Regions from separate parts of the Homo sapiens genome. Here region 2 is linked to region 1. Evidence: fine-mapped expression QTL. Tissue or cell type: fibroblasts. Region 1 holds a variant in brackets; the other region holds the start of a gene. All regions are shown on one strand. Distances are from middle to middle.

Region 1 (4,394 bases):
GCCTCAGCCTCCCGAGTAGCTGGGACTGCAGGCGTGTGCCACCACGCCCAGCTAAATTTTGTATTTTTAGTAGAGACGAGATTTCACCATGTTGGCCAGGCTTGTCTCGAATTCCTGACCTTGTGATCCGCCCGCCTCAGCCTCCTAAAGTGCTGGGATTACAGGTGTGAGCCACGGTGCCCGGCCAACATATTTCAATATATATAGTGGATATATTAATATATACATTGGTATATATATTTTAAAAATAAGAGGTACCTATGTATTTATTTCTGGCTTATCTATAGTATAGATTCTGTATACACACAGATCACCCTGTGAGTCTTCCTAATACCTACAAAACAGGTAGAATTTTCTTCTTTTGTCTATGATCGTGGTCTGAAGGATGACTTTTCAGCAGCAGAAGGGACTGGAATGGAAGGTGTCCATAATTTTGGCTGGAAGAGAGAAGTGTGCCCTCTTGTGGGTCTCCTGTCATGTTCTCAGAAAGTTCCTCAGGATAGAGCTGTGGCCTTTGTGGTCAGGGCTCTAGTCCCATTTTACCTTCAGATGCCTCCTATGCAATTTTTTTCTCATCATCTTCCCTGAGAAATATTTCCCAAATAATAACACAGCTCCCTCATCTCCCTAAATTACCTCCCTCACACTCCACATCCAGTGGATCAGCCCTTCCTCTTAGGTCTAATTTTTTTTAAAACTTTTATAAGTTTAATATTGTCACTGTATGTTTACATATTCATTGGTACAATTTACATCATCTTCTCCATTTTTGCAAAGATAGCATGTACACAAAGATACATATTCAATAACTGAGAAACAAGTGAAACTTCTGATCTATACTTTCAGGTTTGTTCAATCATGATACTTCTGATAAGGATCATGGACATACCAGTTTTACCTCTCCCAGAATGACGTCGCCATTTTATCTTAAGAGTTTACTCTGGGTTTTATTGCAGAATACAAATTCCCTCAATCGCTTTTTTCTTGCAGGTTCCTTTTTCCATAATTTTTTTCTTTTAACCAGCCTTTCACCTCACCCAAAGGCCACAATGAAGTCGAAGAAACCTGTAGATGACAGCTTTCACAGTCTTTCTCTTGTCTTTTCATGTACTGAAGTATGTTAGAGATCTGACTGGCAGCTTCAGGACACTCGGAAGCAAGGGGGACACTCTATTAAGGATCGCTGAAGTATGCCCACATGTCAGGTTTCTCTCAGATGTGGTTAAGTCTGGAAGTGGAGGAAACAACTGGTGTCTAAATATGACTGAAACGTCCAGTGGACAATGCAGAAATAAGAGAGGCATTCTTGACACAGTTTCTGTATGCTGAAGATGCCAAAATATTCAAGAGCCATCGGATTCCTGAAGCTGCTCTCACTGCACCAGCAAAGGCAAAAGCAGCCATCCCTCTCAGCTCTAATTTATGGATATGGATGTATCCCAAACCCCATCCCTTCTTACTACCTCCTGCACTAGCAACTAGTCCAAACCACCATCATTTCTTGCCCAACCTGCTGCAATCACCTCTTAAGTATTTTCCCTGCTTCCACTCCTTCACCGTATATTTCATTCTCCACACAGCAGCCAAAGCGGTTTTTTTAAAAAATACAAATGAAATGTGCTCACTCTACTATTCAAAATCCTTTAGTAGTTTCTTTTCACACTTGGATAAAATCCACACTCCCTCACCACAACCTATATGACTGGACTCTTGCCTAATCTTCTCACCTCATCCTCTATCACTTTCTTCCCTGTTCATTCCTCTCCAGGAACTGGCCTTCTCACTGTTCCTCAGAAATATGAAGCGGACTACTGCTTTAGGGTCTTGCATTTGCTGTTTCCTCTGTTTTCAACCCCCAGACCGTCACATGGCTTTCTCTCTTACCTCACTCAG[G/GTC]TCTCTGCTCAAATGTTGCCTCAGAGAGGACTTCCCTCATCACCACCCCTAATATAAATGAAGCACCGTAGCCGTAGCCGTTCCCTAACCAATTGCCCTACTTTATTCACCTTCACATCTCTTATCAAATATCCTGTTTACCTGTTTACTTGATTATTGTTTGCTTTACCTCTAGAATGCATGTTCTATGAGTGTAGGGACTTGGTCAATCTTGTTCAACAAGGAACTTCCAGTCCAAAACTGTACCTGTCATAGAAAAGGCACCCAATAAATATGCAAATCAAACTACGGTCACTCAGTGACAGAGAAAGAATGAGAACAATTTAAATAGTGTGAGGAAGTGTGTTTACTATTTTGCTCAGTAAATGTATGCACTAGAACAAGTATGAGATGGGAGATGTGAATCTACTTTATCTCTTAGTTCCCCTGTGCTATTCACAGTATGATCAATGTGCCATGCTGGGTGTTTAAAGATGCTGACAGTTTGAACAGCATGGCCCTTACATGCAGAGAAGTTCCGTAATGAGTTTGAGTCCTGGATTCACCACGTTAGTGTCTGACCTTGGGGAAGTTACTTACGCTTTCAATGCCTCAGTTTCTTCATCCATGAAATGAGGCTAATAATAGTACTACCTCTATAGGATTGTTATAAGGATTAAATTAATAATATAAATATCTTAGAACAGTGCCTAGAACATAGTAAGCCATGTCTGAGTATTTTTAAAGCAAACCTATTTGGCTGTACTTGGTTCTCCCCTTTCTTGGGGACTTTATAACTTGAGTACTTATAAGATACTACTCTGCCCAGCACTTTGGGAGGCCGAGGTGGGTGGATCACGAGGTCAGGAGATTCAGACCATCCTGGCTAAAATGATGAAACCCCGTCTCTACTAAAACTACAAAAAAATTAGCCAGGTGTGGTGGCGGGCGCCTGTAGTCCCAGCTACTCGGGAGGCTGAGGCAGGAGAATGGCGTGAACCCAGGAGGCGGAGCTTGCAGTGAGCCAAGATCGCGCCACTGCACTCCAGCCTGGGCGATAGAGCGTGACTCCATCTAAAAAAAAAAAAGATGCTACTCTGAAGTGACTGGCATTGGAATTTTCATCATGCTTTTAGACCAGTAATTTTAGTTTTAGCACCAAGTACAATAATTATTTTATAACCATTGCTAGTCTAGCATTTTTGCTTAGCCATAAATTCCATTTAAGCCAAAATATCCCTAACTTTGCAAAAAACTGTACCTTCAGGGGACACCACCCAATTATAGTTGAAAAAAAGATGTTTCTTCCTTTTTAATTCTGTAGGCTTTTCTTGGCTGGCATTTCCATAACATAATATTGTTATTTGGTAGTTGAGTGTCAGTCAGCTCTACAGAAAAATAAATACCAGTGATCTTGCTAAACCTGTGTACCAAATCATTCCTGAACTAGGGGAGTGGGCCAGATAACCTTTGGAAGGCTTTTTAGCTCTGTTTTTCTGTGGTTTTCGTAAAATGAAAATAGCTCAGAAATTAGAGGTTCTAGATTTAGCACTATGTGAACTGGGCCGGGATGCTTTGTGAATCATGGACAATTGAAATAGTTTAAACTCAGCTTATTTGGAACAGATTAGGTCCATATTCGGGTTGAACAAGAATGAAACCTGTTTGAACTGTGGACAGGCTGTCAGCACCCTTCTAGGCTCAGCTTTTCACTTCTCTTTCTAGGGCCTTGACTCGTTCATATATAACTGTATGAATGCCTCTTTAGAAAGGACTGCAAACACCTCCAACTAGTGTTTGTGAAACCTCCTTGAGGTATTCTACATATGATTCAATAATAAACACCTTCTGCAGTCTTTACCTTAGTTATGGTCCCATAAGTCATGCATTTATTCATCCAGTAAATATTCCCTGAGGGCTTAATATGTGCTAGGAATTGTGCTAGTACTAGCCACTTAGTTGTCCAAGTTAGAAACTAGGAGTTGGGCCAGGCACAGTAGCTCACGCCTGTAATCCCAGCACTTTGGGAGGCCGAGGTGGGAGGATCACCTGAGGTCAGGAGTTCGAGACCAGCCTGGCCAACATGGTGAAACCCCGTCTCTAGTAAAATTACAAAAATTAGCTGGGTGTGGTGGTACATACCTGTAATCCTAGCTACTCGGGAGGCTGAGGCAGGAGAATCGCTTAAACCTGGGAGGCAGAGGCTGCAGTGAGCCAAGATCGTGCCACTGTACTCCAGCCTGGGCAACAGAGTGACTCCGTCTCAAAAAAAAGAAAAGAAAAAAGAAAAGAAAGAAAAAGAAACCTAGGCGTCGTCTTAAATATACCCCCCTCATTCACTCCCCACATTAGGTCAGCCACCAAACTGGTGCCAATACTACCTTCCAAATATCTCTTGAAGTTTTGTTCTCCTCTTCACTCGCTCCTGGTGCCACTATGTTGGTAAAAGTGGTGTAAGCCCAGCTACTGTAGAAAGCAGGGCACAAAGCAGTCTGCTAAGGAGGGGGAAGAGGAGGGGAAGA
Region 2 (4,394 bases), 110 kb before region 1:
AGGTAAATAGAAAGAAAGCAGCAAAAAGTAATCTAAATGTGGAAGAGGCAGAAGATATAATAAGCATACAAAATGAAACTTAACGCACAGCAGTCTAGGGACATTTCAGAGAGCAGCCAGCCATCCTACCTAGGTTGCCTTCAGCAACCCCTGAAGGCATTAATGTACTAGGATTAGCTGAAATAATTAATATTCACAATGATGACCTCCAAAGTAAAAAGGCAAGAAAGACATTTTTAAGAGACTTCCAATGTACGTGGCTGAAATTTTTTAAATCTGATGCCTAAAGAGTGACTGTATTTCACAAACATTATTCAAATTTTTATTGGACGTTTACCCTATCTGAGGCTAGATAGTTGGAAAACACAAAGAAATCTAATACACCATGTCTGTTCTCAAACATTTTACCATTCAGTACATTAGACATGGTAGAGGCAGAATGACACAGATAAGAAATAGAAATTCAAGTAATAAATTATGAGAGCACAGACAAAATTAGGAATAATTGTCCCTGAGGAAAACCAAGGATGTCTTCATGGCACAGGCCACTGAAAAATGAGAGTTCTGATAGGTACAGAATGGGGAGCAAAGTGTTAAGGGAAAAACGAAATCTGGGCAAAAGCACTGAGCATGAAAATACAGGTTGGCTGAAAGAAGAGAGGTAGGGAACGGGTACATTAGGAGTTGGGGGTGAAAGTAGTAAAAGTAAAGGCTGTAAAGCTATTTCAGGACCTTTCATGAAGGGATCTGAATGATATTCAAATTCATTTGAGTTTTATTGAACAAGAGAGTTCGCCAAAAAACTGGTGCTTATGCAGCACACCTGATCCTCAAATAATGCTGAATAATGGCCAAAAATAAAAGATTCAGAGTTAAATGCAAATTATTACTCAAATTCCTGAAATAAAAAGTCTTGACATGAATTAATAAGCGAAAAGAACCTAACCCAAGAGTAGAAAGTAGCTTCTGAGCTTGTTTCTTAAATAATGAAATATTACCCAATTTATTGACTGAGAACTGAAAATAATTTAGGATAATCTGTTGTGTCCTTTGATTGTCTTCCATGCAAGTCAGAGTATTTCCTAAACATATTATTTAGCAGTGCCTCATATCACCCTTGAAAGGCAAGAGACAGACTACAGTATTATTACCCCCTTTTTATCACAGGGAAACTGAGGAACAAGAAGACAAAATTACAGTATGGTCACAAAAGCCATCATATTTTCTAGGACTTTAATTAAAGGCTCCAAGCCTACATTTCATCTTTTATTCTTCGCACCATCTGAATACTAGAATTATCTTTTACTATCGTCTTAACTGGAAAAAATAAAAATATCTAAACTTTAACATCATTTTCTCAATTTGGTACTGTCACAAAAAAAAAAAAAAAACAGTTTTAAAAGTCTGCCCTTGAAATGATATTTGCAAGAACAGCAAGGTGTAAGCAGTAACCCAACCTCCAAAAAATACAGTTGTAAATCTTACAGCTGTAATATAGTTGTAAATCTTAAGACAGGTCAGGAATCCTAGACCCAGCCTTTACTTTGAACATCTGGCAGGCCTCAGGGAAATAATGGAGATTCGTGTCTGTAAACAGTCTTTGCAGATGCTCTGATGAAAAGGTGCCCTAAGAGGCCCAGAACAGTGGTATCACTGCACCCACTACTGCAAACATGAAATCCTCCTCTGTCCCTCCCTGCATTGCACCACGAGACTCGTGGCACACACGGAGGCCTGTGCAAGAACCTCTCGACGATTCCTTTAAAATGTGGTAATATAAGGACGCCTTTGGTGCTGGGCCTCCGTAAACACTGAGGATACCGGATGTGGCCAGGCACACCTCAAAGTCTTGGCTCTCCAAAACCAGGGCCTGGTCGAGAGTTTTATTGGACACCGAGTTCCTGCGAATATCTCACTTTTCACACAGGCACTGCCAATCCCTACCCTCCAGTACCCTTCCTCAGCCTCCTGCCCCACTCTCGCCGCGAGTGTGGGCGTCCCAAAGAGCTAAGGAGGGTAAGGTTGGTTAGAGCGCAGGGGCCAAGGCCGCGGCAGCGAGGCCGTCCAGCGCGGGCTAGGATCCCGCCAGCCCAGCCCTGGAGCCCGGCCGCCTGGCCCCAGCCCTGGCCCGGGCCAACGCGCCGCCGCCACCGCCTATCAGCGGAGCGCAGGGGCGGGGTGCTGTCCGGACTAGGCTGCCGGGCCGGCGGGCGGGGGCGGGCGGGGACGGGCGGGGGACCGACCTCTGCGCAGCCCAGGCCGCCGCGCGCACACACCGGGCCCGGCTCCTGAGGGCGCCAGCGCGGCCCCGGGGAGCGCGAGGAGCCGGCGAAGCGCGCGGCCTGCCGTTGGCGGCCTGGTCCGCAGCGCCCTGCGCCCACCCGCCCCGGACGTGGGGCCCAAGCCCCCGTGAAGATGGTGTCCTGGATGATCTCCAGAGCCGTGGTGTAAGTGCCTCTCACTGCGCCCTGCAGCCGGCGCGAGGCCCAGGGGAGCTGTGGGAAGGGGAAGGAGCCGAGAGGAAAGGGAAGGCCTGGGCCTGGGCGGGGACGGGGTAGCCCGGCCTCGGGCCTGCCGAGGGTCTGGGGGAGCCCTCGGCTTCCTCACCTTGGTCCACGTCGCTGCGGAGCTCCCTGCGACGGCCGAGGGCCTAGCTGCGGCGACTGCGGCTGCGACGGCGGCGGCGGCTGTGGCGCTGCTCGGCTGCGTGCGGTGCGGCGCGGCGCCCCTGCTCCGGCGGCGCTGGGTGGGCAGGCGCTCAGGGCAGGCGGCGCGCGCTCCCCGCTCCTGCTCCCCGCGCAGCGCGGCACCGCCCTGCGGGCCCGGGAGCGGCGCGCCTCGCAGCTGCTCCCTGCGCAGGCTCCGCAGACGCCGAGCGCGGGAGGCTCCGCGATCCTCCCGAGGATGCGACGGCAGTGCCGAGCCTTTGTATCCCGCGGCTGATGCGTTGCGGTGTCTCTCTTGGCGGCTGATTGCCATTCGGTCACGTGTGGTAGGAGGAGAGATTTGTCTAAAAACCGGAGACCGCTCCCAGCCCAGGATCCCTGGGAAGGGTCCTAGTTTTCCCAAGATTTGCAGCTTACCGAGAAAGGTGACACCGGCTGCTCGCCCAGATCCCCGAATTCGGCCCTGTCTCGGCGGAAATATTTGCTAAGTGATTGAAAGGCTGCAGGTGCCTGTTGCCTTTGTTCAAATTATGGGTTCATTTCATTGTTCTCCTACCAACAAGTGCTACAGGTCTGTAAGAAAAAGAAATTCCTTGAGTTGGTGGTGTTAATCGTGTAAATGTATTTGAATACAGTTTAAACTGATTTTCTCTCATCTCCATTTTACCCCTCTCCCCGATTAAAAAAAAAGTCACCAAGTAAACAATGACGTAGTTACAGCTAGGGCCTATGAATTCATTATTCACCTCTGTAGTAGTGTTATCTCAGAAGGTTTCATAAAGGTATATGAAAAAATGTTTATGTGAGGGGGCAGGCTTCTCTGATAAGCTTTAGAATTTAGGAAAAATAACATTACCAGACTTTTTGTTAAAAGGAGCTAGATTTTCTGAGTTTGGGGTTTATTTTGTTTGGAAGTGAATTACTAGCCCTATTTAATCAGATTTGCAGCACAGCATTCAAAATTTTTCATTTGATTAAATCGCAAAGTTTCTAGTTTTAAAGCCTCAGAGCTTCCTGTGTTCCCCTGTACGAAACTAAAAATCAAGATATAAACAAAAGGATACCACAGATGCCTTCAGATTGTTTTTCAGCCTTTTCCTGGCCTCTCTTTTGAGTCTGTCATTTATCTAATTCAGGCATACCTTTCTTGACCTAGTAGATGTCTATCAACTGTTGTGTCCACACCTAGAAAATCAAGTGCCCTATTAAGAAGCTGTACTTTACAAAAAAAAAAAAAAAAGCCTCTGGATTTCTTTGACCAGTTCTTCAGCTGACAGAAAATTGTGAAGCACTTTTAGACTTTTGTTTTTCATAATTGCCAATGAATATGAATGTCTGTTCTAGGTGCTACCTATAACACAAAGGTCAGTAACACGTAGTTGATCATGGGAATTGACAGTTTGGGTGCACAGATATCTGCAGTACAGGTCCAAATGTCAACTCTTGTAAAAGTTACACCCACTCTAATACCCAGTGTTGGACAAGGAAGGGATATCTGGTTGGAGAATCAGAAAAGGCAAGGGAGATTACGTTTCAGATGGGCCTTAAAGAATAGGCCCAGTAGAGTGGCTCACACCTGTAATCCTAGCACTTTGGGAGGCCAAGGAGGGAAGATTGTTTGATCACAAGAGTTAGAGACCAGCCTGGGCAACATAGCGAGACCTTGTCTCCACAAAAAAAGAAAAATTTAATTAGCTAGTCACAGTAGCTCACACCTGTAATCCCAGC

Evidence for each region.
Region 2: REEP3 starts here. The variant in region 1 is fine-mapped to the expression of REEP3 in fibroblasts (GTEx, PIP 0.94).

What each region holds. Positions count from the first base shown.
Region 1 is chr10:63,633,424-63,637,817 of GRCh38, forward strand. It overlaps the pseudogene MRPL35P2. Among named protein-coding and RNA genes, the nearest start is that of REEP3, 110 kb to the left of the region's middle. RefSeq lists a silencer at 3,646-3,745. The variant G/GTC (reference allele first, on the strand shown) is at 1,894.
Region 2 is chr10:63,519,131-63,523,524 of GRCh38, forward strand. REEP3 (receptor accessory protein 3) reads left to right here and starts at 2,271. Exons shown (of 8, transcript NM_001001330.3): 1 at 2,271-2,447. The coding sequence starts at 2,416. It also overlaps a transcript of JMJD1C not described here. RefSeq lists an enhancer at 1,467-1,516 and a silencer at 1,907-2,956.